7 linked regions of the Homo sapiens genome follow. The protein of the gene in region 7 purifies or fractionates together with the protein of the main gene of each other region. This does not show direct contact. Each region holds a gene or a part of one and is shown on either strand. Other genes may lie near its edges.

Region 1 (3,500 bases), on a different chromosome or scaffold from region 7:
TAATGGACTTTGATCTGCAAATTTCTTGCTCTGTAAATTGCTGGATAGCTGGATGAACCTTCTGAATCTGACCCAAACGCAAAAATCCTATTTTAAACTTGGCTAACTTCAAAAGAATATTGTCAACAGCAGAGTGTGTATAGCTGGTCAACAAAACGCTAAAACCACAGGCGTAGAGAATTCTTACCTAATAATGGGTAAGAGAAAAAAGAAAAAACAGCCTTACTTTTAATTCCAGATAATTTTTAACATGTTTATAAACTTAACAAGAACCATATCTAAGAGCTGAGCCAAGTAAAAATTATGAAGCCAAAACATTTTACAAAAATTACATGACATTATTATACGTTATTAATAATATGTCAATAATACATCATAGGCCAGGCATGGTGGCTCACACTTGTAATCCCAGCACTTTGGGAGGCTGAGGCAAGTGGATCACTTGAACCCAGAAATTCAAGACTTGCCTGGGCAACAAAGTGAGATGCCATCTCTTTTTAAAAAATTCTTTTTTTAATTAGCCAAATGAGGTGGTGCGCCCCTGTGGTCCCAGCTACTTGGGAGGCTTAGGAACGAGGACTGTTTCAGCCCAGGAGATTGAGACTGCATGAACTGTGATCATGCCACTGCATTCCAACCTGGTCTCAAATACCAATCCCCCTGACTTGGACTCCCAAAGTGCTAGGATTACAGGCATGATCCACCTCGCCTGGCTCACGTTAACAAGACTCCATCTCAAAAAAAAAAAAGAAAAAGAAAAGAAAAAAAGAAATTTACTGACATGAAAAAAAAAATCCAAGAAAAATCTCTAACATCTTTTTTTTTTAGGATGGAGTTTTGCTCTTGTTGTCCAGATTGGAATGCAATGGCGTGATCTCAGCTCACTACAACCTCTGCCTCCTGGGTTCAAGTGATTCTCCTGCCTCAGCCTCCCGAGTAAAGCTAGGATTATAGGCGCATGCCACTACGCCCGGCTAATTTTTGTATTTTTAGTAGAGAGGGGGTTTCACCATGTTGGCCAGGCTGGTCTTGAACTCCTGACCTCAAGTGATCCGCCCGCCTTGGCCTCCTAAAGTGCTGGGATTACAGGCGTAAGCCACAACGCCCGGCCTCTAACATCATCTTTAAAGGGAAAGGAAAACATATAGTGATAAATATCACATACCACTAACGGAAAGCGATCTTAGAAAATTCTAAATGCGAGAAATCTACATGATTACAACTGTTTGTGCTTCAGCTTTACTATTTCTCATCATTCTAAAAAGTTCATTTGAAACAAAGACACTGAATTAAAATTCAGCCCTTTTGATATTCAATATTACATCCTCTGAACTGAGGAGAAGCTGATACAAATATTTTGTCTCTAAGCAGAAGAATAATAACCTTACGAGAGTACATATCGTAGTTGTTTTTCCTGTCCCAGGCATACCCACGATGAGTGTGTAGTCTTTTGAAAGAAGTACCTTTTTCATCGCTTGCCTCTGAGGCTTATTCAAACCTACATTTAAATTCAAAAATAACAGGAAAAAGAGTGTTGAATTTCAAAGGAAAAGTTAATTATTTCATAAGAAAAGCAGTCTCTATCCAAGTCTATTCTTCAATACAAAACCATTTCCAAAGAGTCTTGGTCTAAACATTGTAGTTGCAAGTCTAATCAAGATATTAGACTACAGTATAAATCAAATAGAAACAAGAAAAATTAATCAAAGCAGACATGGTGATTTTAGCATACCCTTTAGAATGCAGGCAACTGTATCCTTTGCATCATGTGGAAGAACAGAACTAAGGTAGGATATAAACTGAGGTTCACGAAAGTCAATAATTAAATCTCGAAGTTTTTTGCTGAAAAGTGAAAAAGCACTTTTAGTAATATTCCTTAGAAAAGTGGAGTGAAATTCAAATTTGCTCATTGTTACAAACCTGACAAACGTGTTTTCCATCAATTTGGAAAGATTTCCTAATGGGGTATCTATATCACAATTTTTTTCTTCTTGGTCTAATCTGAACAAAGTTGATTCTGGAAGGACCGACAAGTTTCTAAAACAACAAAACAAATATACATGAATGCTCGCCATTTCGCATAGTCTGTATAAGAAATATGCTGCTATCTGCTAAAAGAATGAATGGGCCAGAATAGCTATTAAAATAGCTACCAGCCCTCAGTCACACTTGCCAATCAAGGACAGCATGAGGCCCTGGATTGGTGGGAAAAGGCAGAGGGAAGGGGAAGGTCCAAGGCACCAAGGTCAAAGCAATTAATAATTGGGAACCTGCAACATTTGCTGAAAATTCATTTACCCTTGCAGTCGAACACGGGTTCACCATCCCCAGAGGGATCCTGAATGCATGGCTCTTCCTTCCTCTAACCTGGAGTGCAGGCTTCTTTTCTGCCACCTTCTCCCTGTCTTCTATCTGTCCCTTAAGCTCTGGTATTCCCTAGAGTCCCTTCCCTGGTTCATTGTACTACTCTTTCTCATTGTTTGCTCCAGGGTCCCAGGCCCTCACGTGCCTCCAAATTCCAAATTCCATCTTTAGGCCTGACCTCACACTCCTCTCCTACCTGGTTCCTCACCCAAGCTTTGGGTTTGGATATTTAGTAGGCAGTGAGATCTCTCCACTTAGCTAAACCCAGGCTGTGAAAGCACAGTACTTTCAAAGCAGAACTCCTCCTCATCCCTGCTGAACCTGATGCTCCTTCTCTGGTCCTGATCACAGTTAATGGCATTGGCATTTGCATTTGCACTGCCATCTTGATCCTTCCCTCTCCCTCATCCTCTCCCCAACCCACACACCCAATCAGTATCCAAATGCCAGCCACTTTTACTTTCTAAATACTTCTCAAAGTCATTCCATTCTCTCTGCCAACACTACCCTGCCTCAATTTCCTCTAGCCTGGGTCACTGCAACAGCTTCCAGGTTTGCTTTTAGTTTTTCTTCCATTAATGAACTCAATTCTCTACAATGTAGCCAGAGGAAAATGCAAATCCAATGATTACCCACTCTTCTGTTTAAAACCTTTCAATACAATTCTATTTATTCAATAGAATAAATAAAATCTAAACTTTTTTTCTTTTGAGAGAGGGCCTTGTTCTGTTGCCTAGGCTAGAGTGCAGTGGCATGATCATGGCTCACTGTAGCCTTGAACTCCTGAGCTCAAGCTGTTATCTCACCGCAGCCCCCTGAGTAGGTGGGACTACACGTGTACACCACCACACCTGGCTAATTTTTTAATTTTTTGGAGAGATGGGGGTCTCACTATGTGGCCCAGGATGGAAAACTTTTTAAAATGATACGTAAGACATTCTATGACCTGATCTAATTACTCTCTTCCTTATATTTTATATTCTAGAAATAACGTAATTACCTGCATTATCCTGAATGCTCCATGTCACACTACATCACACGTTTGTGCAACAGGTTTGCCCAGTATAGTATTCTCTTCTCACACTGTTTCACCAGACTAATTTATTAATCCACAGGATGAAGATTCAGAATTAGCT
Region 2 (4,596 bases), on a different chromosome or scaffold from region 7:
GGCGGATCACCTGAGGTCAGGAGTTCGAGACCAGCCTGGCCAACATGGTGAAACCCCGACTCTACTAAAAATACAAAAATTAGCCGGTTGTGGTGGCAGAGGCCTGTAATCTCAGCTACTTGGGAGGCTAAGGCAGGAGAATCACTTGAACCCAGGAGGCAGTGGTTGCAGTGAGCCGAGATTGCACCACTGCACTCCAGCCTGGGCAAGAGGGTGAGACTCCATCTTAAAAAAAAAGAAAAGATTCAGATATTCAGATAAAATAAAGTGGATGGTTGCACAGACTTTTTTTTTTTTTTTGGTCATTATTCCCAAAACAACGACACAGTATAGCAACTATTTGCATAGCATTTACATTTATTATCAGTAACCCAGAGATGATTTAAAGTGTAAGGGAGGGAGGGGCACGGTGGTTCACGCCTGTAATCCCAGCACTTTGGGAGGCTGAGGTGGGCAGATCACTTGAGGTCAGGAGTTCAAGACCAGCCTGGCCAACGTGGTGAAACCCGATCTCTACTAAAAATACAAAAAATTAGCCGAGCGTGCTAGTGCATGCCTGTAGTCCCAGCTACTTGGGAGGATGAGGCAGGAGAATCACTTGAACCCAGGAAGCGAGGTTGCAGAGAGCAGAGATCGCACCACTGCACTCCAGCCTGGGTGACAGAGCAAGACTCTGTCTCAAAAAAACCAAAACAAAAACAAAAATGAGCCAGACATAGAGGTATATGCCTATAGTCCCAGCTCCTTGGAGGGGTTGAGGTGGGAGGATTGCTTGAACCTGGGAGGTCAAGGCTGCAGTGAGCTGAGATCGTGCCACTGTACTCCAGCCTGGGTGACAAAGTGAGACTCTGTCTCAAAAAAAAAAAAAAAAAAAAAGTATAAGGGAGGATGTGCATAGGTTACACGCAAATACTATACCATTTTATATCAGGGACTTGGGCATCCTTGATTTTTGGTGTTCTTGAGAGGTGCTGGAACAAATCCCCCATGGATACCAAGGAACGACTGTACTTGCCTATTACAGTAGATATTCTCCAAAAGGGCCACTAACAATTTCTCATTTCCCAGTAGGTGCATGCTGCCCTCACATCAACAGGTGGAGTCTATTTCCTCTCCCCTTGAATCTAGGCTGGCCTTGGGACTTGCTTTGACCACTGAACACAGCAAAAATGACATTCTGGGACTTCTATGTGCAGGCCTTAAGAGAACTGGCAACTTCTGCTTCCTTATTCAAAGCACAGCAGCCACGCTGTTAGAAAGTCCAGGACAGACTCTCTGTGATTAGGTACCTGGACAATGAGAGACCATCTTGGACATTTCGAGCCCAACTGAGCTCCCAGCAGACCAGCAGACTGTACCAGCATGAGGGACTCCAGGTGACCCCAAATGGAGCAGCAGAACTTCTCCAATAAGCCCAGGCAACCCCCAGAACTATGAGGGTTGGCACATAAGTGCTCAACAATTAGCGGCCATTACTGTCTGGGAAGCTAAAATGAACATGTGCAGTATATAACTGCAGACCGCTGTGTACATTACATTCAGGTTCTGAGCGCTTTGCAGGCCCTGTGGAGTGGGAATGTACAGGAGGTGAAAAGGCAAGGCTTCAGGGTAAAAGCGCGTCTTAGACCTGAAGGACAGAGTATGCAGAATATTGGTTTCTAAACCTCTAATGCATGAAGACCCACCCACAGACTTCTAGGCAATTGCAACGCGTGTCTGCACCAAAGGCTGAAGACTGTCCCGGCAGAAGTCTCGTGGTCTCTATATAGACAGATGGGTAGTTGTGAGGCCGGGGGAATGAAGAATGTCAGTGAGTATGGGGATTCTTTGTGGGGTGGTGAACATGTTCTAAAATTGATTGTGGTGATGGCTGCACAACTCTGTGAATATACTAAAAACCATCGAATTGTGCATTTTAAATGGGTGGACTATATGGCATATGAATTTTATACAGATGATAAAGCTGTTTATTTTTATTTTTGAGTCAGGCTCTCACTTTGTCACCCAGGCTGGAGTGCAGTGGCACAATCTCAGTTCACTGCAGCCTCGACCTCATGGGCTTAAGCAATCTTCCCGCCTCAGCCCCTAAAGTAGCTGGGACTACAGGTACGTGCCATCACGCCCAGCTAATTTTTCGTATTTTTTGTGGAGACAGGGTTTTGCCATGTTGCCCAGGCTGGTCTTGAACTCCTGAGTGCAAGCGATCTGTGGGCCTCAGCCTCCTGAAGTGCTAGGATTACAGGTGTGAACCACCACGACCAGCCATAAAGCTGTTATTACAGAAACACAGAGGGTGGGACGGATGAAGCGGGTGAGATGACAAAGGAGCAAGGAACATTCCAAAGGGTTGCCTGGGGGCTACAAGGCACCAACCTATTTGGCACTGAGAGGAAAAGCCAAGTCTTTTTAGGTGGTGAACGAACCCAGCACTGGTCAGAAGCTAGGAGCCCTGGGGACAGACCCTGTCATTCCAAGGATCTCAGGCATTTGGCATCACTGCTGTTGCCTCAAATGCTTTGCATGCATGCGGCTCACTCATACCTGTTTTCCTTTCGCTTAAATGACAACCCAAACTCTGCTAGTCACAAGGCTTTTAAAAACAGAAAAAGTTCCTAGGCAAGAGGAAAACAAATGCTTCCCAACAGAAAAGCAGATGGGGGCTTGCATTCAGACTGACCTCAGAGGCAGACGAGGCGGGATCCCAAGGCCTAGTCAGACCCAGAGCCTCAGATGCCAAGACGGTAAACTCCATATTTAAATGCGGCCGACTCAGATGTGAGGTGGACAGTGGACACTCCCTCCCTAAGGGCGGCTGCCCTCTACTACCCCCTCTTCCTTCTTCTGGTGAAATTCCTTTCAAAAGGGACCGGAGGGCAGGGCCATGGGAAGTTTTCAAATCTTGGAACTGCCGCCTGAGCCAACTTAGCACATGAACAGCCCCCTAAAACCAGGCAGTATCATTGTATCACCAGCCAATATATCTCATCAAATCCTCTCAACAAGACCCACCAGGATATTTACCAACAGCCCCCAGAAATCTCCATCTCTCGCCTGCCCAAATCAACCTTGTGAATCCTTCTGTTTTGTAAGGCAATCAATGTAATTACAAGAAGACAAAGTGTTCTTTTAAAACACTAGCCACTGCAGAAGATGGGGCACCTGAGAGGAAAACATCCTTTCATGTTGGAGAGGAAGCAGGTTAGAAATGACAGACTTTGAGCAGCTATGTCACCATGGCTAGGATATGAGAAGAGAAATCACAAAGACTTTCAGCAGTTTGTCCTGAAGGTCCTGCTAAGTCTAAGTCCTATGCTGCCATCAGTAAAAAAAGCCAGGAGCCACAAACCAAATACAACTTTGTAGGAAGTTTGTGGTCCTTCCTACTACCAAAGAGACTCTAGAGGCACAAACTCAACTTGTTCTCTTGTTCTTCTTGATCTGAACACTTTTTTTTTTAAGATCGGAGTCTCACTCTGTCGCCCGGGGTGGAGTGCAGTGGCTCAATCTCTGCTCACTGCAACCTCCGCCTCCCGGGTTCAAGCAATTCCCTGCCTCAGCCTCCCGAGTAGCTGGGATTACAGGTGCCTGCCACCATACCTGGCTAATTTTTGTATTTTTAGTAGAGACAGGGTTTCACCATCTTGGCCGGCCTGGTCTTGAACTCCTGACCTCGTGATCCGCCCGCCTCGGCCTCCCAAAGTGCTGGGATTACAGGCGTGAGCCACCACGCCCAGCGATCTGAACAGTTTTAGGATTAAAGCGTTCAAGAATGGTTTTAAACACAACTTTGAAAAAGGATGAAGAACTCCGATTTCTTGGGGACCCAATGCCTTTGCTACTCGGGCCCACTCTACTTTTTTTTTTATTTTACAATTTTTAATTTTTGTGGCTACATAGTAGGTAGTAGGTGCATATATTTCTGGGGTACATGAGATGTTTTGGTACAGGCATGCAATATGAAATAATCATATCATGCAAAACAGGTTAGCCATCCCCCTCAAGCATTTATCCTTTGTGTTACAAACAATCCAGTCATACTAGTAGTTATTTTTAAATGAACAATTAAATTATTATTGACTATAATTACCCTGTTGTGCTATCAAATACCAGGCCTTATTAATTCATTCTATTTTTTTATACCCATTAACCATTCCTACCTCCTTCCCACCCCCCAGTACCCTTCGCAGTCTCCAATAACCACCTACTCTCTATCTCCAGGCCCCACCCTATTTTGTTTTTCTTTCGAGACGGAGTCTCGCTCTGTCACCCAGGCTGGAGTACAGTGGCGCGAGGTCAGCTCACTGCAACCTCCGCTTCCTGGGTTCAAGCGATCCTATGCCTCAGCCTCCCAAGTAGCTACGATTACAAGCATGCGCCACCAGGCCCGGCTAATGTTCGTATTTTTAGTAGAGATAGGGTTTCACCATGTTAGCCAGACTGGTCTCAAACTCCTGACCTCAAGTGATCCACCTGCCTCGGCCTCCCAAAGTGCTGGGATCCTGGGCATGGTGGCGCAGAAGTTGCAGTGAGCTAAGATTGTGCCACTGCACTCCAGCATGGACAACAGAGTGAGACTTCATCTAAAAAGAAAGAAAG
Region 3 (4,596 bases), on a different chromosome or scaffold from region 7:
ATGCACTATAGAGTGTTTCATTTTCAACGCATTTTACAGCTTAAGGCATAAAAATATAGGGAGTTTTCATGGTCAATAAAGCCACAGCCTCCATCACTCAATCACGAGAAGAACCTGATTTGAAGAGCCCGACAACTCCTCTGAGATTCATCTCAAAGCCTGTGGAATTAGGGACCACCCATGGCTTAGCTCAGTGACATCTTGATGGGAAGAGGGCGGCTCTGGAGCTTCTCGGGCCAGGTTCAAGTAGAGGCTCCACCCTTGTGTGCTCTGTGACCTTGGGCCTCCATCTCCTCTTCTATAAAATGGGGACAATGTCTACATTCTGGAGGGCGGTCAGGAAGATTAAACAAGATAATGGACATTAGATGTACTGCATGTAGCTGGTGTTCAATAAATGGGAGACGTTCCTATTTCTACAAGCGCAAAAAGCTCGATGGAGGCTTTGTTCATGATTGTTTATTTGACATCAGATTGTGGCTCTTATTTCCTCCCTTCAATTTCCATCTAAGCTCTCATTTTATGTAAAATTCCTGAATTCTAGAACAACAGCATGCATTACTAGAGTCTAAACTGACTCCTCAAGAGCTTCTGATGGCAACAACATTTCTCCCAAGCTCCCGGACACAGGGCTGGGCTTCCGTTGCTTGGTACTGGTGCAAAGCTCACAAAGACACACTCAGGACACTGCAGGAATGGTGGATAAAACTAAGTATTCCAATTGCTATAAAAATCAGAGATGGGGCCGGGCCTGGCGGCTCATGTCTTTAATCTCAGCACTTTGGGAGGCTGAGGTGGGCAGATCACTTGAGGCCAGGAGTTCGAGACCAGCCTGGCCAATGGTGAAACCCCGTTCTCTACTAAAAATAGAAAAAAATTAGCTGGGCTTGGTGGCGGGTGCCTGTAATCCCAGCTACTCGGGAAGCTGAGGCAGGAGAATCACTTGAACCCGGGAGGTGGAGGTTGCAGTGTGCAGAGATCACACGACTACACCCCAGCCTGTGCAACAGAGTGAGACTCTGTCTCAAAAAAAAAAAAAAAAAAAAAAAAAAATCAGAGGTGGGAGAAGTACTATCTCATCTTCCATCAGGCTCATGATCATTAGCTCTAAGTAAATCAGGCCTAGGGTATGCTACAACTCTTCTGGAGTCTTGTGCATGACACAATATTTCTGCAAATATTTTGATATGGAAACAGACACTTTAGGGAAGGTGACAGACCTCACGGATTTTGCAGAGAAGCATCTGCTTCGAGGGAGCATTTGGACCTGTAAAATGATTTCTCTGCACTTGATCTTCCACAGTCTCATACTGAAGTCATAAACCTGTGTTTCTGTCATCAATCTGCTGTTGTGAAAATTATTTTGATGTCAAACATGGGATTATAATTTTACTAGAATCCTTCTCAAGTCTTGAATATTTTAATGCTGGCTATAAAAAAAAAAAAAAAAAGTCCAGCCCCTATCGGGGTAATGGAATATTTCTCTGCCAGGTCCCTGAACACTCTGCACAAGGGGCCCGTGCTGTCTGTGATGCTCCAGTGGGTAACTCGAAGCTCGCTGGCTGCAAGCACTCCCAGGCAGGCCCGTGTCCCCACTCCTTGGTCCAAGGAGGGGCTCTGATCAGGCTGGTCTATGAACCCTCTCCCTTTCATCCAGCTAATCATGCTACTCTGTCTGCTCCAAACTGTCCTTCCAGCTGCTCTTTTAAATTGCTACCTACTCCTTTTGAAAATCTTTTGCAGCCATGGGGAATGTGTCTCAATATATTCCTGGATCGCAATTCTATTTCATTGAAATCTCCCACACAACTCTTAGGTCATGCATATCTGGGGAATTAAAACACAAGTCTGAAATCTGTCAAATCTGGGGGCAAGTTCTGGTTCTGCCAACTTACCAGAGTCATGATCCTGGCTCTGCTACTTTATTCCTGATCCTCACTTTTCATCTGGGAAATGGGAACAACTTTATCTCATGATCTCACAGAGCTGTGAAGATGCACTGTGATGGGACACGTGGAGCCTCTGGCCCAGGTCCTGCACTGTGCAGTCCCTCAGCATATCTTCGCTACTTCTGCTATTATGTGATGACTTCAACTCTTCAGAAGAGACTGAATGATAACTTACATAGGTTTACCATGTCTCATCTGATTTGTACTCTAGCAGCCCTGGTGGGGTGGGGTAGCATAGGTACTATGATCCCCACTTTACAGGTGGGGACACTGAGTCCCAGAAAGGTGATGTGACTAGCCAGGGTCACACAACTAGGGGTGGGGGAGCCCTCTCTGGTCCTCGCCCCTGCTCTGCCACAGCAGCTGCTTTTCCTATCTGATCAACCTATGGAAGATTTGGCTTGAAGAAAGGATTCTCTGCTTGGGAGAGGCTGAGACCCCTAGTCCAGGGCTACTCAGAGTGTGGTGCCCAGACCAGCGGCCAAAGCAGCATCTGGCGCTTCTTGGAAACGTATGATCTCAGGTCCTATCCCAGACCTCCCAAATCCGCAAGACCCCTGGAGGCTCCCATGCCAAGCAGAGCTCCTCTCAGCCACACTCCACTCTGCAAGGCCCTGCACGGCCTAGCCCCGCCAGCCCCGCCAGCTCCCCCAGCCCCCCCAGCCCCCCATCCCCCTGTGCCTGCCTTGCCTCAGCCCATTCCCAGGCTGCCTGTCTGTGGTGCTTCCTCTCTCTTTACCTGGTCAACATCTGTGCCTTTTCAGTCATCCTTCAGGGTTCAGCTCTCCCTGCCTCCATACCTCCACCCCAAGTCAGTTTACTGTGACACACCCACACCTTTGAGACTAACGATCTCTTTGTAATTTTGTGTTTTATGCCTGTTTCCTCTGGTAGAGGAAAAGCTCTCCAGGGGCAGGGACAGAGTCTGTCACCGTGGCATCCCAGGCCGTGGCCAGGCACACGGAAGGTGCTCAGTGAGTATACTGTTTAGGTATGGTGACATACAAGTCTAGCAGAAAGTTAGGTATGTTTAGAACAGGTTGCTAAAATCACCTTCAGCATAATTATCTTCAAAACAATAATAATTTCCTCAGAGTCTGCTCCAGGAGCTTCAAGGAGCTCCTGACAATGGTTGCAGGAAAATAAACAGTACATAAAAGGAATAAACAAATACAGGAAGAGCCAGGGTTATTGGGATTGGGAGGAAACTGAAAAGGGTCCTGCTTTGACTGAAGCAGGTGCAGAGCAGCTGAGCGGGGGCTGGTGTGGCCCTGGCACAGGCACTCACCCCTGGGTGGCTGGCAAGCTGCGACACTCCTCCTCTGCCAAACTGGGCCCGGGAACCTTCTATAGAGCTGCGGAGTGGGTGGGGCTGCGGCCATGCCGCAAACAGCCTGAAGAGAAGCTGGACCCACCTACCCTGTCTCTGGTTCAAGAAGGAATACTCACCTTGAGCACAATTTCATTGACGGTAGCAGCGTCCGATTCAAAGTAGAGGTGTTTATAGTCGTGATTGCTTAGATACGTGAGTTTAAATATTGCGTGACCTGCAGAGACAGAAAACTGTGTTGAGGGGTTCTGGTGAGTTAACTATGGCGGGGGCCTCCATATGTTCTCCCCTATCATTCCAATTCGAGCGAGAGCAAGTGGAGGCTGAGCAGCACCTAGTCTTCCCAGGAGTAGTTCGTTTTCTCATTACAGGCTGGGTATAAAATGGACAATGAAAAAATTTTAAAGACTCAACAGCCAGTTAGGTCCCATTCCACTCTGGAATGCATTCAGGGGAATGCCACGTTAGGAAGGCTTTACGGAACTGCTGCTATATGATAATTACATGCAAAAGGTGGCGTTTTTAAGGGAGAAGGCTAATTAACTCCACATTATTACTCTAAAAATAAACTAACTGTTTAAAGTCAGATAAATGAGCAACAGGAAGGAGAAGGGTCAAAAGCCACACTATTATGAGGCTGCTCCACAGCCTGGGCTCCTGCTGGGAGAGGACTCCTGCCTGGAGAGGGAGAATCCCAGTTTTAGACCCTGCTGGAAGCTGCTCCCAAAGGCCTCAGGTCATCTCAACCCTGGGAGGATGGGGGCGGGGGGGGCACCATGGAAAGTGGGCACCTCACAAAGCGACCGACTCCAGGGGGCAGAGCTTCTGAATATAAATCTGATCTAGGTCTCCATTCTCCATGCCCCGTCCTACCACCTTCAGGATGACACTTGTCATTTCTGGGACTGCTTCCTGGTCTAGCCTCATCTCACTCCGCTGCCCCGACAGGCCACAGGCTGCCAGAGTGCTGCACACTCCCACCTGCCACACCAGCCTCTACACAGGTTCTTCCCCAAGCCTGGGATGTCCTCTCTCACTGACCCGGATGGGAAAGATTTGCTGATCCTGGGTGGCTCAGCTCAGCTGGCGCCTTCTTGGGTGAGTCTTCATAACCACACTTCTAGGCGCACTTCTTGTGTGGGCCTACCACACGGTACCGTGGCCCTCCAAAGGAACCTGCTTGTCTTATCATACCTGCAGCCATGGCTACATTATCTGGGCCTGTCCTTTTATGTCCAGACAGGTCAATCGGATTCCCTCTTCTAAATGCAGACATAGATGCTAGGCTGTCTAAACTGGCACAAGGACTGAGAATAA
Region 4 (4,596 bases), on a different chromosome or scaffold from region 7:
AGCAGAATGTTTTTCTGTATTCTAGTCTCCTAACTAAAAGAAGACAACTTAGAAACACAAAAACCTTGCAGAGGGAAAGTCAGGAGAAGGCAAAGTCAAACAAAAAACTCTAGCTGTCTCTCTCTTTCACAAAACATTAAGTTTTTCTCTAAAAAAAAAAAAATGCTTCATGCCTATAGCAACATGATTAACAATAGAATTTTTAAAATAAAAAACACATGAACTCCAGGGCAAATCTGATTAAATTCTTGAACAATGAATACTGACAGAATAAGGGAAAAATTTCATAGTCCTCACTAGGAGTCAGGCCTTCCCTGGTCACTACCACCCCTCTCTTCTCAGTATCCTGCTTATTTTCTTCAAAGCATTTACTACTACACAATTTGTACTTATTTTATTTACATTCTTTTTGCCTATTCATGAGTCCATCAACTGTAAGTTCCATAGGGCACACCATGTGGTCTTTGTTTGCATTTCTATTCTCAGACTTAGTACAGTGTCCAAGGTCTGTTTAATAAGTAGATTTAAATACCACAAATCTATAAATACATATAAATGTATATACCTATATATGTGTACAGATATAAATACACTCATATATAATGCTAAGGTAGGAAAGTAAGCCAACCAATTGCAGTAGTATTCATGAAAAAGATGGAAACAACGTTTTCTGAAAATGAGCGTGAACAGGCCTTAAGGTTTTCCTGTAATAGATCTTTTGCTCAGGCAAAAATTTTTAAATGAGGTATGTGTATATATGCATATGTATGTGTGTATGCATATTTGTATGTGTATATGTTTAAGTTCATAGGTATAGAATGTGTATGAATAGAATATGTATAGTGTATATATGTGTACACAGTCCATTCTAGTTATTTATAGATTCTGTATTTGTCAATTTACCTACTCACTATAATTTGCAACCTCAAAATCAATACTTGCAGTGCTTTTGTGGACAAGTGCAGAATGGTGAAAAAAATGTCACCGAACATACATGTGTGTTCCCAGCTGAAGTCAAACAAGAATTCTTGCTTTAGCTTTTCCAATGGCAAAACAAGTGTTCATCTCATGATTTATTTAGTACCACATTTTTCACATTTTTGTTCCTTTTGCTGGTGACTTCACTGTTTAAATAGGTCCCCAAGCATACTGCCTACCGTTTCTAAGTATGAGAAGTTGTGATGTGTCTTGCAAAAAATACATACATATATATATATGTGATAATCTTTGCTCAGGCATGTGTTGTTGGCTATGAGTTCAATGTTAATAGATCAACTGACATATTAATATGTCTTTAAACGGAAACACATATAAAGCAAGGTTATCTATTGATCAGTTGATGAAAATGTTGTGACCAGAGCCTCACAAGAACCTAACCCCTAGGAGCAAACAAAGTTTCAGTATTCACTAATTCAGTGTATACAACAACTTTACAGAATATAGCTACCACAAATAACAAGAATTGACTGTCTCTATGTGTATATATATGTTTGTATATGTGTATATATTTGTATATGTATATGTTGAATTCCATTTAGGTAAACTCCAAGCCATATATATATATATTTTAATAATCAAACTATTGAAAACCAAGGTTAAGGAAATCTTGAAGATAATCGGAGGAAAAAAGATATAATGCAGAGAAACAAAAACAAAAATTTTTCATCAGAAACTATGTAAGCTTGAAGATAGTGGAGGGATTTTTTTTTTTTTTTTTTTTTGGAGACAGAGTCTTATTCTGTTGCCGAGGCTGGAGTGCAGTGGCACTATCTCAGCTCACTGCAACCTCCACCTCCCAGGTTTAAGCTGTTCTCCTGCCTCAGCCTCCCAAGTAGCTGGGATTACAGGTGTGTACCACCACGCCTGGCTAATTTTTGTATTTTTAGTAGAGATGAGGTTTTGCCTTGTTGGCCAGGCTAGTCTCAAACTCCTGACCCCAGGTGATCCATCCACCTCGGCCTCCCAGAGTGTTGGGATTACAGGTGTGAGCCACCATGCCTGGCCAATGGAATGATATTTGTAAAGTACTACTAGAAAAAAAAATTATAAACCCAGAATTCTATATCCTTTGAAAATTATCTTTCGAAAACAAAGGTGAAATACTTTCTCAGAGAAATAAAAGCTAAGAGAATCAACCAATATTAGACAGGCACTTTAAGAACTTACAGTAAATTCTTCAGTCGATGGGAATATAATACCAGACTGAAACTTGGACCTACATAAAGAAATAAAAGCTCCAGAAATGCCAAGGGGCAGTGTAGGGGAAAGGAAACAGAGAGGGAAAGAGAAGGTAAATATATTTTTCCCAAAACACCCTATACCTTACATCAGACTTGATGAAAGACTGAATACTTTCCCCCTAAGCTCAGGAACAGGACAAGAGTATCCTCTCACTACTCTCCCATTCATTGTAGTAGAGGTCCTAGCCAATGCAACATGGCAAGAAAAATAGAAGACACACAGATTATCAATGAAAACATTAAACTGCAGTCACTTGCAGTGACATGACTGTCTACTTAAAAAAAATTTACCCAAAATTACTATTAAATAGATCTACTAAGTGAAGTTAGCTAGATTACAGGATATGATCAATAAACAAAAATTAATAGTATTTTTCCCTATTTCACATCATATATAAAAATTAACTCAAAATGGATTAAAAGCTAAAGCTCTAAAATTCTAAGAAAAAAACAAAGGTATATATCTTCTTGATATTGGAGAAAGCAATGGTTTCTTGGATATGGCACAAAAAGTACAAGCAACAACAATACAAAATAATAAATTGGACTACATCAAAATGAAAAAGTTTTGTTCTTCAAAAGACACCACCAAGAAAGTAAAAAGACAACCCACAAATTGAGAGAAAATATTTGCAAATCATGTATCAATCCAAACATATGACACAAAAAAGTCTAAAAATAAACAATTCATAAATTATGCGCTTTTCTGAATAGCATGATGAAATCTCCCACTGTCCTGTTCCATCCTGCCTTAATCATAAATCATCCCTTTGTCCAGAACATCCATGCTGTATACACCACCTGCCCTCAGTAGCCATACTGATTATCAGATCAACTGTTGTGATATCTCAGTGCTATGTTCAAGTAACCCTTATTTTACTTTATAATGCCCCCAAAGTGCAAGAGTAGTAATGCTGATGTATTGTTATAATTGTTCTCCTTTATTATTATTAGTTATTGTTGTTAATCTCTTATTATGCCTAATTTATAAACTTGATCATAGGTAAGTATGTATGAGACAAAACAGTATATACAGGGTTTGGTTTATAAACTTTATCATAAGTAAGTATGTATGAGAAAAAGCACAATATATATAGGGTTCAGTACTATCCAGGGTTTCAGGCTTCCACTGGGGTCTTGGAACATTTCCCTTCTGGATAAGGGAGGACTACTGTATACAAAGAAATCTTACGACTCAATTATAAAAAGATAAATAATACAATTTTAAAATGGGCAAAGGACCTGCATAGACATTTCTCCAAAGAAGATATACAAATGGCCAATAAGCACATGAAAAGATACTCCACACCTTTAGCCATCAGGGAAATGCAAACCAAAGCCACAATGAGAATCAATTCATACCCATTAGGATGGTTATAATCAAAAGAACAGAGAACAGCAAGCGTTGGTGAGGATTTGGACAAATTAGACTCCTCATACACTACTAATGAGAATGTTAATTTGGAAAACAGTCCAGCAGTTCCTCAAAAAGTTAAACAGAGTTACCATATGAGTCAGTAATTCCACCCCTAGAAACATACTCAAGGGAAATGAAAACACAGGTTCACACAAAACTTGCACATGAATGTGCAAAGCAGCATTATTCGTAACAGGCAAAAAGTACAAAATATCCAAATGTCCATCAATAAAATAAATGTGATACATCCTTACAGTGGAATATTATTCATCAGTAACAGAGTATTGATATATGCTACAACGCAGATGAACCATGAAAACATTATCCTAAGTGAAAGAAGTCATGCACAAAAGACCACAAATTATATGATTCAATTTATATAAAATCCCCAGAATGGGCCAGTCTACAGACACAGAAAGTAGGTCAGTGGTTGCCAAAGGATGAGGGAAATGGGGGAAATGGAATATGACTGCTAGTGGATATAGGGTTTCTTTTTGAGGTAAAAAAGTTCATTGTAATTGTGGCTGCATTAACTGTGGATATACTAAAAGCCACAGAATTGTGCATTTTAAGTCAGTACATTTTATGGTATGAGTATCTCAATAAAGCTATTATTTAAAAAAGAAAAAGACTCCAAATCTCTATCTCTAATCCTGACCTATCTCCTAAAGCCCGGATCACTATAATGCAATATATTACAGGCATCTCAGATTTTGCATGTTGAAAACTTAAAAATTCACTGACTTCACAGATGCTTACCTCTGATAACTGGAAACACTGTCATTCAATTACACCAAAAGAAACCTTGGAGTCACTCTATTCTCTTACTCTCCTTTATACTGATCACTATAAAGGCTATCAGGTTTACCTCTTTGCTGCTCTTAAACATGACTTCTCCATGCCCCAGCTTTATTTTAGGCCCTTAGAATTTCCCACCAA
Region 5 (4,596 bases), on a different chromosome or scaffold from region 7:
AATAAAAAAAATAAAAAAAATTAGCTGGGCATGGTGGTGCATGCCTATGGTTCCAGCTACTAGGGAGGCTGTGGCAGGAAGATCACTTGAGCCTGGGAGGTGGAGGCTACAGTGAGCCAAGATTGCACCACTGTACTCCAGCCTGGGTGACACAGCAAGAATCTGTCTCGGAAAAAAAAAAAAATTATATTTACTTCATAAATTGGATATCATAACTAATATAATAAATGCTGGCTTCTGTATTAGAAGAAACAGCTAACCATTGAATTTTACTATAGCTTAAACATGTATGAGATGCCAGGAATGAGAAAAGAACATGTGTCAAAGCTTCTGTTCAGGAATGCTCTGCTCAAATAGATATGTGGCAGCTTTGCAACCTTGTCTCTGGCTCCACATCCACATACATCCCAAAGTGCTACTATTCCATAAGAAATATGAAAAGTTTCAGAGCCATTCCGTACAGGATCAAGTGCAGCTGGCTGACACTGATAGAGTCTATAGTTTGTGCTGAAATGCTGGCCCAAACATTTCATCTACCAACTCATATAATTTTCTTTCTTTTTTTCTTTTTTTACAAAGTCATTTATCTCTACCCTTGAATCAGCAGCTATTTTGATGACAACTATCAGATTGGTGGTCTTCATCCAACTTATCCGAAAGAAATAAGGAAGGCAAGTAGTTAGGGCACCTTGCAACTCTTCATTCGTTTTCTCTCGCCTGGGGGCAGGAGCAGGGAGGACCCTATTTTCAGTTGACTGTGATGCGGGAACTTCTTCTTCATCTGTTAAGTCCTCCATATCTCCAAAGAGAGTGGCCAGATTTTCCTTTTCGTCTCTTGTCTCTCCTGTTTCTCCATCATCAGCCTCTTCTGTATAAGATTCACCGTCGCCGTCGGCATCAAAGAGCTCATCAAATGCGTCGGGCTCGCCATTTTCCCGCGTCAAGAAGTTATTTTCTTCTGAATTACAATCCAAGGCTGACTCATTTTCTTCCAGCAGTGCGGTCAGCAGAGACAGATTGTCTTCCTCCTCTAGGGGAAAAGAAGAGAAAGGACAGAGAATAAGCACGGCTAATTCCAAACATTCAACTTTAGGCAATTTAAATGACCCCATGGGGGTAAGAGAAACTACCTAATGGGTACAATGCTCATTACCTGGGTGATGGGTTCAACCATACTCCAAACCTCAGCATCACACTATATATACATCTCTGTAACAAGCCTGAATCTAAAATGAAAGCTGAAACTAAAAAAACAAACAAACAAACAAACAAAAAAAACAAAAACCTACAGATGCACCATTTTGCCTGGTCTTTGTTCTCCTTGTCTCCATCTTTCTTGTCCCCAGGTGCTTCTTAGGGGACACTGGGCTAAGAAGGAGCCAATACTGCTTAGTGAGTAGAGTGGGCCAGCCACGGGGCCAAATGTCCTCAAGCATTCTACTCCAATCAATGAGACAGCTTCCCGCACACCGACTTCCATGAAATTCAACCAACAAGGGAATAATTTTAAAACACCAAACATAGATTTAGGCTTTAGATGTATATAATTCCTGACCTTCAAATTATTTGAGATTTAAAAAAAAAAAGATACAAACTATATAAAAAATACTAAGATCCCATCACCCAGAATTAGCCATCATTAACATTTTGTTGTTTGCTTCTTGCCTTTAACATTAAATAACACCTTCCAGATGAAGTCTGTCATGCCAAATCTTATCCCAACTCCTGACCACTGCCCCCACTTCCCATTGTAATCACTTTCATAATTTTGAGGCATCATTCCAGTCCATTCTTATGCTTTTACATAAATATATAGGCAGTCATAGTCAATCTATATTAGATGGTTTTAAAAATATTTACATAAATATTCCACACTGCATTACTCTGCATTCCAGGTTCATTCAACATTGCTTGTAAGATTAACCCAAATCAAAACATATAGTTCTAGCCAGGCGTGGTGGCTCACGCCTGTAATCCCAGCACTTGGGGAGGCCAAGGCAGGAGGATCACCTGACATCAGGAGCTCAAGACCAGCCTGGCCAAGAAAGTGAAACCCCGTCTCTACTAATAATACAAAAATTAGCTGGGCGTGGTGGCCCGTGCCTGTAATCCCAGCTATTCAGGAGGCTGAGGCAGAAGAATTGATGGAACCTGGGAGGTGGAGGTTGCAGTGAGCCGAGATCGCACCACTGCACTCCAGCCTGGGTGACAGGGCGAGACTCCATCTCAAAAACAAACAAAAAACCCCATATAGTTCTAGTTTCTTTCTTTTCGTTGCTATATTGTATCCTATAATAAGACTGTATCACACCTCATTAATCCATTTTCCAATAAAGGACAATATGGGCTATTTCTAATTTTTCCCCACTACTAAATACGCTGTAATCGTGTATCCGTCTTCTCGCACATGTGTTTCTTGGGAATATCTATCAGAAATGGAATTGCTGGATTGCTGGGTATCCACGTTTTCCAATTTTGCTAGATGCTGCCAAATTGTTCTCAAAGTGGATGCACTCTTGAAATGGCATAGTTCGTCTGGGGTAATACCTGAGGTTCGTTGTCTCATGCAAAGGAAATCAAGGATGCTGACACACAAGGAGTGAGGTTAAGTGCAGAGATTTAATAGGCAAAAGAAAGAGAAGAGCTCTCGGCAGCAGAGAGGTCCCAGAGAAATGGGTTGCCGCGTCCATGGCAAAATGCATGGGGTTTCATAGACGAGCTTGAGGACGCAATGTCTGATTTACACAGGACATAAAAGATTGGCTGGACTAGGTATGCCATTTGCATAGGGTGGAAAACCTGGCTGCCCCACCCTAATCTTTTATTATGCAGGTGGTTCTCTACCTGGCCAGCGCCATATTGTCTGTTTCTTTACTGTACACGTGGTTGACACAGAAAAAGGGCCGCCATGTTGAACACGCCTGGCCCCCAGGGAGCCTTTTCCTATTGGCACAGCTGCAGGTATTCATCCGTGCAAATTACTAGCTTGCTTTTCTATGTCCGCTTGATTTTTCTGGCTGGCCTTGTTAGAAATTACTTGGGGGCTGCTTTTTGCTAAAAGGGAAATTCTGCTGAGGACTCTGTTGCCCTTACTATCTCCCTAAATAATTGCTATCATCTGTATCACTCTCACTAGAGCTGTACACAAGGGCCACTTCTCCCCACCACCTCATCAATATCTGATGTGTCACTTAAATATTTTTTTGTCAATCTGATGGACGATTTAAAAAGGCATCTCACTGTTTTGATTTGCATTTCTTGGATTACTGGTGAGGTTAAGAATTGTTTGTTTATTTGCCAATCGGATTTCTTCTTTCTTGATTTATCTATTTTCTTTGCTCTTTTTTCCCCCCTATTTGGGCACTATTTGTTTATAAAATCAGAGGTATTCAATGGAAAAATATTAAGGATATCTGACCTACTCTCCTTGTCTGAAATTCAGGGGCTAGAGTATGAGAGGGTGAGGGGCTTGTTCAGGATCACATGGAGAAACAGATCAGTTCAGGAGCTGGGTTAATAAGGAATCTCTAGATCAGCAAACCAATATCCTTTCCACCACTCTACACTCCCTTACCAGAAGGAAAAAGCCAGTAGCCAAACTTCAGGCCTAGAATCTGATGATGGGGCCTAATGCTCAGTCAGAGGTTGTATAAGGATTAGCTTGAGTTGCTTAGTCCACAAAGACTCCAAGGCTGCACAGTGCAAGAGAGAAGAGGCCAGGCAGCCCCCTGTGCTCTGAGAATGTCACATGCCTGCAAGGAAGCAAAGAGGCCTCCACCATCTCTTGTTCCCGTCTGCCAAAGAGGGCACACCCCGGGAAGAGGCTCTGGCTCACACCACTGGGGGCCACAGGTGGAAAATGCTGCCTGGGGACCCCATACTATTCACTTTGAACCCTTCACAAGAGAACGAGGGCTAATCCCATGGTGCCTCACAACCCCGTTTACCTCAGTCACCACCAAAAATCATGTCTTCTCTGTATTACGCTGACTCAATCTCCCAGCCTCTTTGTTCTCAAACCCCTGGGATGTGAAATCTACTATCAGCACGTTTCTCGGATCCCCAGTGGCTCTTACAACAGAAATCTGGCTACCCCTGGAAGCCTCTTGAATGGAAAGCATTTAATTGTTCACACCTCACATGGCAATGTCTAGAATAGTGTTCGGCACGTATTAGGCATGCAACAAATACTTGTTGATCAACTTCAGGTTCCTGATGTCTTCTTTATCACTGTCACTTTGGAATGATTCAGTCTTTTTCCAGATCACAGCTCTCTGAAGTTCAAGACACCAGACGCTGGCATCAAGAACCCCTCATGGCACTGTCATGTGCTGATCATCATATGTGTATCATGCATGCCCCCCCCGGTCCTCCCCTCCATCTCTACTGTTATCACCCTCCTGGGGCACTTCAACCTCCGCAAGGATGATCCAGCCAACATCTTGGTCGCTGGGTTTCTCATCCACTCCCCATCTTAGCTACCCACTCCCATAGTAACTCCAACTCATCACAGCAAAGCACAACTGACCTCTGAACGTCCCTCTGTGATCCAACCTCCCATCCTTTCAGCCCGCTCACTCTAGTATTCACATCCAG
Region 6 (4,596 bases), on a different chromosome or scaffold from region 7:
CATCAATTACCTTTGAATTTAAACAGTACATTCCAGCGCAGTCTGGGCCCCAAAGCAGTTTCACCCTTACCTAACTTACCTAACTCTTAATATAGCCTAAACTCACTGAAAAATAAGCTAACTTCATTTCACCTTTTGTAGCATACACGTAGACTCAGAGTATATACTGAAATATAATTTGAAAGCTGATCATTAAAAAAATCAAGAACCTCAATATTAAAATATTAACTCTGAGTATCTTAAAATTGCATAGAAAATGTAGGTCATGGTTTATTAAAGTTTTACTTAAATAATCAGATAAATAGGGCTGGCGAGGTGGCTCATGCCTATAATCCCAGCAGTTTGGGAGGCTGAGGCAGGCGGATCACCTGAGGTCAGGAGTTCGAAACCAGCCTGGCCAACATGGCGAAACCCCGTCTCTGCTAAAAATACAAAAATTAGCTGGGCGTGGTGGTGGGCACCTGTAATCCCAGCTACTCGGGAAGCTGAGGCAGGAGAATCGCTTGAACCTGGGAGGCGGAGGTTGCAGTGAGCCGAGATTGCGCCATTGCACTCCAGCCTGGGCAACAGAGTGAGACTCTGTCTCAAAGAAAATAATAATAATAATAATAATAATCAGATAAATAGAAAAAGAGGAAAGGCAGAATTTACAAACATATATTAACCAAGAAATAGTGTTATTTATTCTTTACCATACAAATTTGCATTGAAAAGTTCACAATATTTGATTTTTGAGCTTTCTGAGCTCAGGATTGGTCAGAGCTTGAAGTTTAAAATAGTTGACAGATTTAGGGAATAGCTTTCATGTTAGTTACCGCATGTTCATTAGCTTTGAGTTGCATGGGAACCATGTAAAGTAACCCACGCATTTTGCGTCTATGTAAGGGAATGATTAGAAGGATAACAACAACATAGTTCTTTCTTAACTCTCTATCAGTTCCAGATCTCTATACACTTCACCAACATCTATCATTATTCTTAGTTTATAATGATGAAACAGACTAGGTATAAAAAATGGAAAATTAGATTAGGTCGCGAAGCAAATATAAACCAAGCAAGATAAAATCCACTCATGTTGACTATCATAGTATTGAGATCCAGGAATCCATGCTGTCTGTAGTTAAAGCAGATTATCTTCACTGCCATCTATTGGTCTTTATCCTGAATTAGGAGAGAAATCCCCCGAGGTTCTGCATGGCAAATAAAGAGTTAGGAAAGCCAAAATATCAGTGGGTATCATAAGTGATTTACTCTAGATAAATCACTGAATCATAGTGACAAGCCCTTAGGAGCTCTGCCTTAGAATTTCCCAAGGGTTTCGTAGATGATCCTGCAGCAAAGAATGAATTCCAGGGTGTCAGATCTGACTTGATGGCATTTTAGGGACTTGGCCAAGGTTCCCACTTGATATTTGGGACTAAAATGCCCCACCTGAAAAGAAGCGTTCTACCTTGCAATTAAAGAAAATGTGGGCCAGGCACGGTGGCTCATGCCTGTAATCCCAGCAGTTTGGGAGGCCGAGGTGGGCAGATCACCTGAGGTCAGAAGTTTGAGACCAGCCTGGCCAACCTGGTGAAACTCCAACTCTACTAAAAATACCAAAAAAAAAAAAAAAAAAAAAAAAATTAGCCAGGTGTGGTGGTGGGTGCCTGTAGTCCCAGCTACTTGGGAGGCTGAGGCAGGAGAATTGCCTGAACTTGGGAGGAGGAGGTTGCAGTAAGCTGAGATCATGCCATTGCACTCTAGCCTGAGCAACAAGAACAAGACTCCACCTCAAAACAAAAACAAAAACAAAACAAAACAAAAAAAGACTGGGCATGGTAGCTCATGCCTGTAATCCTAGCACTCTGGGAGGCTGAAGTGGGCGGATTGCCTGAGCTCAGGAGTTCGAGACCAGCCTGGGCAACACGGTGAAACCCCGTCTCTACTAAAATACAAAAATATTAGCTGGGCGTGGCAGCGTGCGCCTGGGTGCGCCTGTGATCCCAGCTACTCTGGAGGCTGAGGCAGGAGAATCGCTTGAACCCGGGAGGCGGAGGTTGCAGTGAGCCCAGATCATGCCACTGCACTCCAGCCTGGGTGACAGAGCAAAACTCCGTCTCCAAAAAACAAAAACAAAACAAAACCAAACAAAAAACAAAAACAAAAAAAAGAAAATGTGAAAATGGATAGTTCTGAGGAAATGGGAAAAGCCAGTTGCTGAGAGAACTGCAGTAAAGGTAAGTCGGTCCCATGAAGGGATACCTACTTCCTACCTCTGCTCCTCAGCTATGTTCTCTTCATAAGCAGAAATTCTGTGACCAGGCAACTTTCTGTATGGTCAGGTTGCCTGGCCTAAGTCCTTGGCTTGACTAAAAGCCCTTAATAATCCAGCCAGTCCCCCACGGTTTCAGAGGAATTTCTAGGACTGCTAACCTTCTATTGGCTTACTAGGGATTCAGGTCCTAATCTATAACCTCAACATGTGCTTTGACCATGTGCCTCCCAGGCTCCACTACGGATATAACAGGAAGTACTTACAAAATTCCTTTATCTTTTTTTTTTCCTTTTTGCAATCAGTTTCTCAGGTTAAAAAATAAATTCCTTTATCTTTGTTTGAAAGAGAAGATCACCACCTTAAACTTCCTAAATGTTCATGAGTCAAACAGGATGATAATATTTACCCCACTGTTATCATCCCTACCTTTTATTTAATGTCATGAGTATAGGGTGTGGACCGGAAGAAGCAATACAGAGTTTCACAGTTGTGCTGGGTAATTCATAAGTTTTGTATGTGCCTGGGATATTAGGGTTGTAAATCACAATTAAAGATGAAAAATGTTAGGAGGGAAGTAAAGCAGAAAGCCCAAATCAGACAGTGAATCAGGGATTAAGTGGGAGTGGTGGAAAGGCAGGCTAAGAACATTTACAGAGATAGAAAATAGCAGAGACTCTCTCAAAACAAGAATTCATTGTTCTAGCATTCAGGAAGTGTCTATATAGGGTGTGGAGGAAAAAAAAGGAGATGTGGGACATTTCAGAGCAGACACTGCCCAGACTAGATCTTTTATCCTTCCATGCACATGCACATGTACACCTTAGTTCCATTATAAGCTTTTGGTGAAAAAAGTAAAGCATTTTATTGAAAAAGCCTCACAGTTCTGACTCTTTGTCATTTTCATCCAGGTAGTATTCATCATCTGTGGTTGTGTCTGTGTCACAATCTGAGTCCACTGGGTCATCCTCATAGATATTAAGCGGTTCACTTGGAGATAAGCCATCTTCTGGCACCTGACTACTGGGAGAATTTGAGCTTAATGACTCTGAGGGGTTGGGAGGGTTCCTCAAATCATCTTTTAGGAAGCCAGGGTTCTTAAGAAAACTTGGTTTCCATAATCTTCCTTGTGTAAGTGACCTCTTTACATTTTCTAAGAAAGCTAACTGTTGTTCTTTCCCAAAGATCCCATAGTCGATAGGTCTGTATATAGATATTGCAGACCTGGGACCTGTTTTTGTCCCGCTGCGATAAGCCCAACTTTCATTTCCATCACAGGAGGGGAGTTCAGAAAAAGATCTGAATCTTCGACTGTACCCATTGTTGACAGAGAATTCATTCCCAAGGGTCAGTCGACTCAGGGCATTGTCAATAGAAGTGCTTTCAGAAAAATGGCGCTCCCTGACTTTTGGAGGATGGCTTTTTCGTAGTAGATCGCCATGAACATTAATGCTTTTTAAACTCTTTGAACGATAGAGGTGTGGCTCAGGTTCCCACTCCAGAGATGAAGCACTCCTTTGTTGCTGCAGAAAACTGGCCAGTGGACTGCTTACTCTAGATTTCTGTGCAGGCTCCAGTGGAAAAGGAGGGCTCAGCCTCCTCTGATTGTCAGAGAATTCTGCTTCCCTGAGGCTGGTGAATGTGATGGGTGATGGGGCTCCTGATTCTCTTACTAAATTCTGAGCTGCTGTGACGTCTTTAGAATTCTCATGCTTTGATGGTGATTCTGAGACGTTTTTAAACTCATTCTGATGTCGTTGTGAAATGCTGTTAGACTTCTGGTTGCTGACGTGTGTAGAAGGTTCTCTGTTGGGTAGTACAGTAATGGGGAGAAGGTTCTCGGATTTCTTCACATGCTTTCCGTTCTCACTCAACCTGCTTTCGCCAATGGACTCTGCAGATTTTGGAGTAGGCTCAGGGAACAGTGGGTTGCACTCCACTGTGCCAAGAGATAAATGGTCAAAGCCAGATCTGCTTCCACTTTGGGGGAAGATAGTAGCTACATGTCTTCTGGGGCTTACATCTTTAGCTGGGAATTTTCTGCTGGCTTTAGACATGGCTGCCAATCTGTGTTTAACTGAAGATCTATTTTCCCCCTTTACTAGGTCATCCAAGTTGGTTTTATTTTTGTTTCCTTCAGGAAGTGAAGGTTGATCCCAAGCTGACTTCTGCATTTCATCTTCAGCCTTCCTGCTCTCTGTCATATTTGCCTCCTGACTTCTTTGAGGTAATTCTCTTGGTTCAGACTGCAGACTCTCTAAGTTTGGTTCATCTGACTGAGTCTCCTCACCAAGCTGTAGTTTATGCAATGCTGGAGTAAGGGCAAAGACTTGACTCTCTGA
Region 7 (4,593 bases):
CTACCTCTGTTACATTAACCTGACTTGAAGGACAAATCCTAGTACCATGTTTTCACCCAAGGTGATAACTAAAGTATCCCATGGAAAAAACTTATGTCCTATGCTTCTGGGTTTTAGTATACTGAAGCTGAGGAAAAGAGAGAACCTTCCATTTCTCTTCTAACTTTTTTTTTTGAGACGGTATCTTGCTCTGTTGCCCAGGCAGAAGTGCAATGGCATGATCTCGGCTCACTGCAACCTCCGTTTCCCGGGTTCAAGCGATCCTCCTGCCTCAGCACCCCTAGTAGTTGCGATTACAGGCACATGCCACCATGCCCAGCTAATTTTGCATTTTTAGTAGAGATGGGGTTTCACCATGTTGGCCAGGCTGGTCTTGAACTCCTGACCTCAGGAGATCCACCACCTGGGCCTCCCAAAGTGCTGGGATTACAGGCATGAGCCACTGTGCCCAGCCTTCCTCAGCTAACTTTTATCATCATCCCCTTCCCCCATTTTATAGTAAATATTGTTAAGTGCACAGTTAAGACACAAATCTTTTTTTATTTTTATTTATTTATTTATTTACTTATTTATTTGAGCTGGAGTCTCGCTCTGTCATCAGGCTAGAGTGCAGTGGTGCGATCTCGGCTCACTGCAACCTACGCCTCCCGAGTTCAAGCGATTTTCCTGCCTCAGCCTCCCAAGTAGCTGGGAATACAGGTGCGCACCACCATGCCCAGCTAATTTTTGCATTTTTAGTGTAGACGGGGTTTCACCATGTTGGCCAGGATGGTCTCAATCTCTTGACCTCCTGATCCCCCCGCCTCGGCCTCCCAAAGTGCTGGGATTACAGATGTGAGCCACCATGCCTGGGTGTCTCTTTCATTCTTTAGGCAGTTCATTGTCACTTCCTTCCATTGGTAAACATGTAAATTATAGTCGCATGATTTAGAATTTTACTGACCAAAGTCATAATAATAGTTAACAGTACAAGGAACTATTTTTGTATAATGGTTTATTTAATACAGTATACATTATCTTTCATATACTTTGTTACAATGTTAAAAAAACTTCATTTTTCATAATATAGGAAATAAAGTTGGAAACAACTCTGGTGGGAATACTTCAGATAGAGCAAGAAAGCATTCACAGCAAGGCCTATAATCAGTAAGATGTGTGAAAAGTTGGGTAGCCACAGGAGGTGTTCATTAAGGATATGATTCCATTTATATAGCTATTTCTATTGCATAACCAGGACAGTTTTATTGTTTTGAGGTCAATGTTCTTTTAAAATTTGATTTTCTGTAAGAAGAGGCTTTTTGGCCCAGAAAGCCTTACTTATTTTACATCTTCCAGTTTGTCCATCCCATGAGTTAGAGTTCGTCTTGACTCTGCAAGCTAGAATCAAAGAATTATGAAAGTAAGATCATTTAGATTTGACCAAGGGCACCATTAAATGGTGTCAGGTTTTAGGAAGCAGACGGGTGTATAAAAAGAAAATGAACAAAGATTTCACTTATTGGGGATCAGGCATAACTGGATGCCTGGATTGTCCTGCCACCCAGCTGCCACCAATAAAATCATTCATCACTCTGCAAGAGGGACCAGATGCTTCCATCATCAGTACTCCTTGTTTTTCTGTTATCTCCTTTGAGGTAGCTAAAAATGGCAGCCAAAAAAAAATGTTGAGGCTTTTCTCAAGTATATACTCATGTTATTTTGCAGAAGATAGGGTCAACTTCTTCAGTTGAGTTATCTGAAAGTGTTGGGCAGTGACACCATGCCAAACACTGTTAAATTCATGCCATTAAAAACAGTGGAGTGTTCTGCAAAGCCCGATTCTCTGCAGCTTTAAGACTGGACAGTATTGAAATATTCACAGGAATCTTCCAAGCCGTGAAAGCTTAATATTAAACAGCCCTTTTAATTGCAAAGGAGAAAAAAATGGAGACACTTGTGAAACCTTGCATTCTGAGTGCTGCCACAAATAAATTAAGGAATTCCAGAATTTCTTCATCTACTTCTGCAGTCTTAACTCTGAATTAATGACTGTATATATCAAACTTCAGATCTTAAAAAACATCAGCTCGCAAGAGGCTGAGGCAGGAGAATGACATGAACCTGGGAGGCGGAGCTTGCAGTAAGCCGAGACTGAGCCACTGCACTCCAGCCTGGGCAATAGAGCAAGACTCCATCTCAAAAAAAAAAAAAAATCGGCTCATCTTTTATTGCTGTTGGTTGAGATGAATCTACTGATGAAGAAAACTGTACTTTGCTTACATTCAGAATAAGGCTTTCAAAACTGTGGGTGTGCTGTTTTCGTGAGCCTTCTACTTGACCACCAAAGACAGTATTTTTGCAGCTGTATCAAATGAACCGAGTTGGAGGAAATTGTATAGGAGTATATCTTAATGGCACTACAGCAAACTGTGTTAAATTTGGGTTTTTGGCAAAGATTGAAGAAAACTGGTATTCAAGATGTACTGCAGCTGTCACCACCAAGCATGAACTTTCACTGATTACCCATAACCTACTGGAAATCTTCAGCCTTGCTGTCAGCATAGACCACTGTGAGAAACAGTACATTCCATTCCAGTTTGCCCTGCTTTTTGAAGATCTAAATGCCATTCCATGTTTTCTGTTACATATTGAAGTTTCTTGGTTGCCAAAGAAAAACGGATTCTGCTGAACTTGTGGACAGAACAACCCCAAGGTTGGAAGAACAATGAAAAATAATCTATACTTGAACATTTCAAAAGTTAAAATTTTCAACAGAGTTTTAACACACTGAAGCTTAAAATACATTGACACTGAAATGTCAATGGGCAAACACCAATTTCGCCGTTCATTATGAAATACATCAAACAAAACTTGCCAAAAATACAACCATAAAAATATAGCAAATGTATGTATGAGCAAACTAATGCTAAAAATGTCTAATTTTCTTGGCTAGTCTTTCAAGGACCAGATTCATGAGTGTTATTTGAAGGGAAAAAGTGAAATACTTGGAATTATTTTGAGTGATGTGCTCCTGAGCTTGTTCTTAAAATCTACCAGTGGTAGCTTTTGGAAAGAATGTGTTTCATACCGATGTGCAGGCCTCACTGGAAGAGCTTCAAGAGGAGTTTGTGAAACTCAAAGTCTAATGGTTTTGATTAGAAACTTCCAGGCAAATACTCCAGAGAAACTTGGGTGTAAAATGACTAAACAGATGAAAAGGCTTTATCCACTATTCCATTTGCTCCTTACACCTTAAAAAGCTTTTTTATTTTTTAATGTTTTGATATATCTAGCTTTGGGGAGAAAGCAGTGCAAGAGTGTTATTAAAAGCAGCTTGTGTTTTCTTGCACCTTTCACACCACCCAGGAAAGAAAAGTTCAGGCTTAACAGTGACATGGCTATCACATCATCTGAATAAATTTTTTCCTTCTAAAATTACTACTGCTTTCATTAATTTCAATCATGATACTTAATTTTGAAATTGTAAATGGAGGGGCAAATGTGAGATTTTCAGGTATATGAAAAGTAGAAGTGTGGGTTACAAAAACATTGAGGAAAAACATACAGCTCACCTGTTTATTGAATGTCTTCCCTATTAGGTTCAGCTGTTCACTGCTGTATCACAAGTCAGACTGTTTAAACTTGTTCCTCTACTTCTGTGGCTGTACCCTGGATCTCATCTTCAGATTGGCTACACATCTGAAATCAACTCCCATTGCACTATGACCTTAGCTCTTAGCCTTCCAATACACTTAAGCACACTCCAATTACACCTGCCCTTCAGCTTTAGGGAGCCCACTGTTTCACTGACTCCATATTTTTTCCTTCCCAATTTATCAGACATTTAACAGCCTTACTATCCTACTGAGCCTAGACTGCATGATTCATTTTGGCATAAAGACCTGATACAGGCCGGGCGCGGTGGCTCACGCCTGTAATCCCAGCACTTTGGGAGGCCAAGGCGGGTGGATCACGAGGTCAGGAGATCGAGACCATCCTGGCTAACACAGTGAAACCCCGTCTCTACTAAAAACACAAAAAATTAGCCAGGCATGGTGACGTGCACCTGTAGTCCCAGCTATTCAGGAGGCCTGGGCAGGAGAATCACTTGAACCCGGGAGGCGGAGGTTGCAGTGAGCCGAAATCGCCGTCACTGCACTCCAGCCTGGGCGACAGAGCGAGACTCTGTCTGCGGGGGAAACAACAACAACAACAACAAACCTGATTCATGTTGTCATCTAAACCGGATTGATTGATTGATTGATTTCTTTTTCTTTCTCTCTCTCTCTCTCTGTTTGACAGAGTCTCGCTCTGTTGCCCAGGCTGGAGTGTGGTGGCACGATCTCGGCTCACTGCCAGCTCCGCCTCCTGGATTCATGCCATTCTCCTGCCTCAGCCTGCCGAGTAGCTGGGACTACAGGCGCCCGCCACCAAGCCTGGCTAATTTTTTGTATTTTTAGTAGAGACAGGGTTTCACCGTGTTAGTCAGGATGGTCTCGATCTCCTGACCCCGTGATCTGCCCGCCTCGGCCTCCCAAAGTGCTGGGATTACAGGCGTGAGCCACCGCGCCCGGCCTCTTTCTTTCTTTCAATGCTTTTGTTTTTGTTTTGTTT

The links.
Region 1: the proteins of TRIM52 (region 7) and DNA2 purify together in Homo sapiens (affinity purification with mass spectrometry; one large-scale study listed by BioGRID and IntAct). This does not show direct contact.
Region 2: the proteins of TRIM52 (region 7) and MAP7D2 purify together in Homo sapiens (affinity purification with mass spectrometry; one large-scale study listed by BioGRID and IntAct). This does not show direct contact.
Region 3: the proteins of TRIM52 (region 7) and MAPKAP1 purify together in Homo sapiens (affinity purification with mass spectrometry; one large-scale study listed by BioGRID and IntAct). This does not show direct contact.
Region 4: the proteins of TRIM52 (region 7) and WDR11 purify together in Homo sapiens (affinity purification with mass spectrometry; one large-scale study listed by BioGRID and IntAct). This does not show direct contact.
Region 5: the proteins of TRIM52 (region 7) and MCM10 purify together in Homo sapiens (affinity purification with mass spectrometry; one large-scale study listed by BioGRID and IntAct). This does not show direct contact.
Region 6: the proteins of TRIM52 (region 7) and EXPH5 purify together in Homo sapiens (affinity purification with mass spectrometry; one large-scale study listed by BioGRID and IntAct). This does not show direct contact.

Annotation. Positions count from the first base shown.
Region 1 is NC_000010.11:68,430,474-68,433,973, forward strand, and holds part of DNA2 (DNA replication ATP-dependent helicase/nuclease DNA2), read right to left. Parts: intron 2,038-3,500; coding exon 1,921-2,037; intron 1,843-1,920; coding exon 1,733-1,842; intron 1,499-1,732; coding exon 1,389-1,498; exon of another isoform or gene 1,384-1,388; intron 188-1,383; coding exon 1-187. UniProt on the Homo sapiens protein: Key enzyme involved in DNA replication and DNA repair in nucleus and mitochondrion.
Region 2 is NC_000023.11:20,109,808-20,114,403, forward strand, and holds part of MAP7D2 (MAP7 domain-containing protein 2), read right to left. Parts: intron 1-4,596. UniProt on the Homo sapiens protein: Microtubule-stabilizing protein that plays a role in the control of cell motility and neurite outgrowth via direct binding to the microtubule. Acts as a critical cofactor for kinesin transport.
Region 3 is NC_000009.12:125,441,103-125,445,698, forward strand, and holds part of MAPKAP1 (target of rapamycin complex 2 subunit MAPKAP1), read right to left. Parts: intron 3,497-4,596; coding exon 3,399-3,496; intron 1-3,398. UniProt on the Homo sapiens protein: Component of the mechanistic target of rapamycin complex 2 (mTORC2), which transduces signals from growth factors to pathways involved in proliferation, cytoskeletal organization, lipogenesis and anabolic output.
Region 4 is NC_000010.11:120,853,701-120,858,296, reverse strand, and holds part of WDR11 (WD repeat-containing protein 11), read right to left. Parts: intron 2,546-4,596; exon of another isoform or gene 2,167-2,545; intron 1-2,166. UniProt on the Homo sapiens protein: Involved in the Hedgehog (Hh) signaling pathway, is essential for normal ciliogenesis.
Region 5 is NC_000010.11:13,167,356-13,171,951, reverse strand, and holds part of MCM10 (protein MCM10 homolog), read right to left. Parts: intron 1,031-4,596; coding exon 689-1,030; intron 1-688. UniProt on the Homo sapiens protein: Acts as a replication initiation factor that brings together the MCM2-7 helicase and the DNA polymerase alpha/primase complex in order to initiate DNA replication. Additionally, plays a role in preventing DNA damage during replication.
Region 6 is NC_000011.10:108,506,405-108,511,000, forward strand, and holds part of EXPH5 (exophilin-5), read right to left. Parts: coding exon 3,133-4,596; 3' UTR 1-3,132. UniProt on the Homo sapiens protein: May act as Rab effector protein and play a role in vesicle trafficking.
Region 7 is NC_000005.10:181,253,971-181,258,563, reverse strand, and holds the end of TRIM52 (E3 ubiquitin-protein ligase TRIM52), read left to right. Parts: intron 1-977; exon of another isoform or gene 978-1,069; coding exon of another isoform or gene 1,070-1,150; exon of another isoform or gene 1,151-1,335; coding exon of another isoform or gene 1,336-1,356; exon of another isoform or gene 1,357-1,509; coding exon of another isoform or gene 1,510-1,515; exon of another isoform or gene 1,516-1,704; coding exon 1,705-1,755; 3' UTR 1,756-2,048; coding exon of another isoform or gene 2,049-2,093; 3' UTR 2,094-3,417; downstream 3,418-4,593.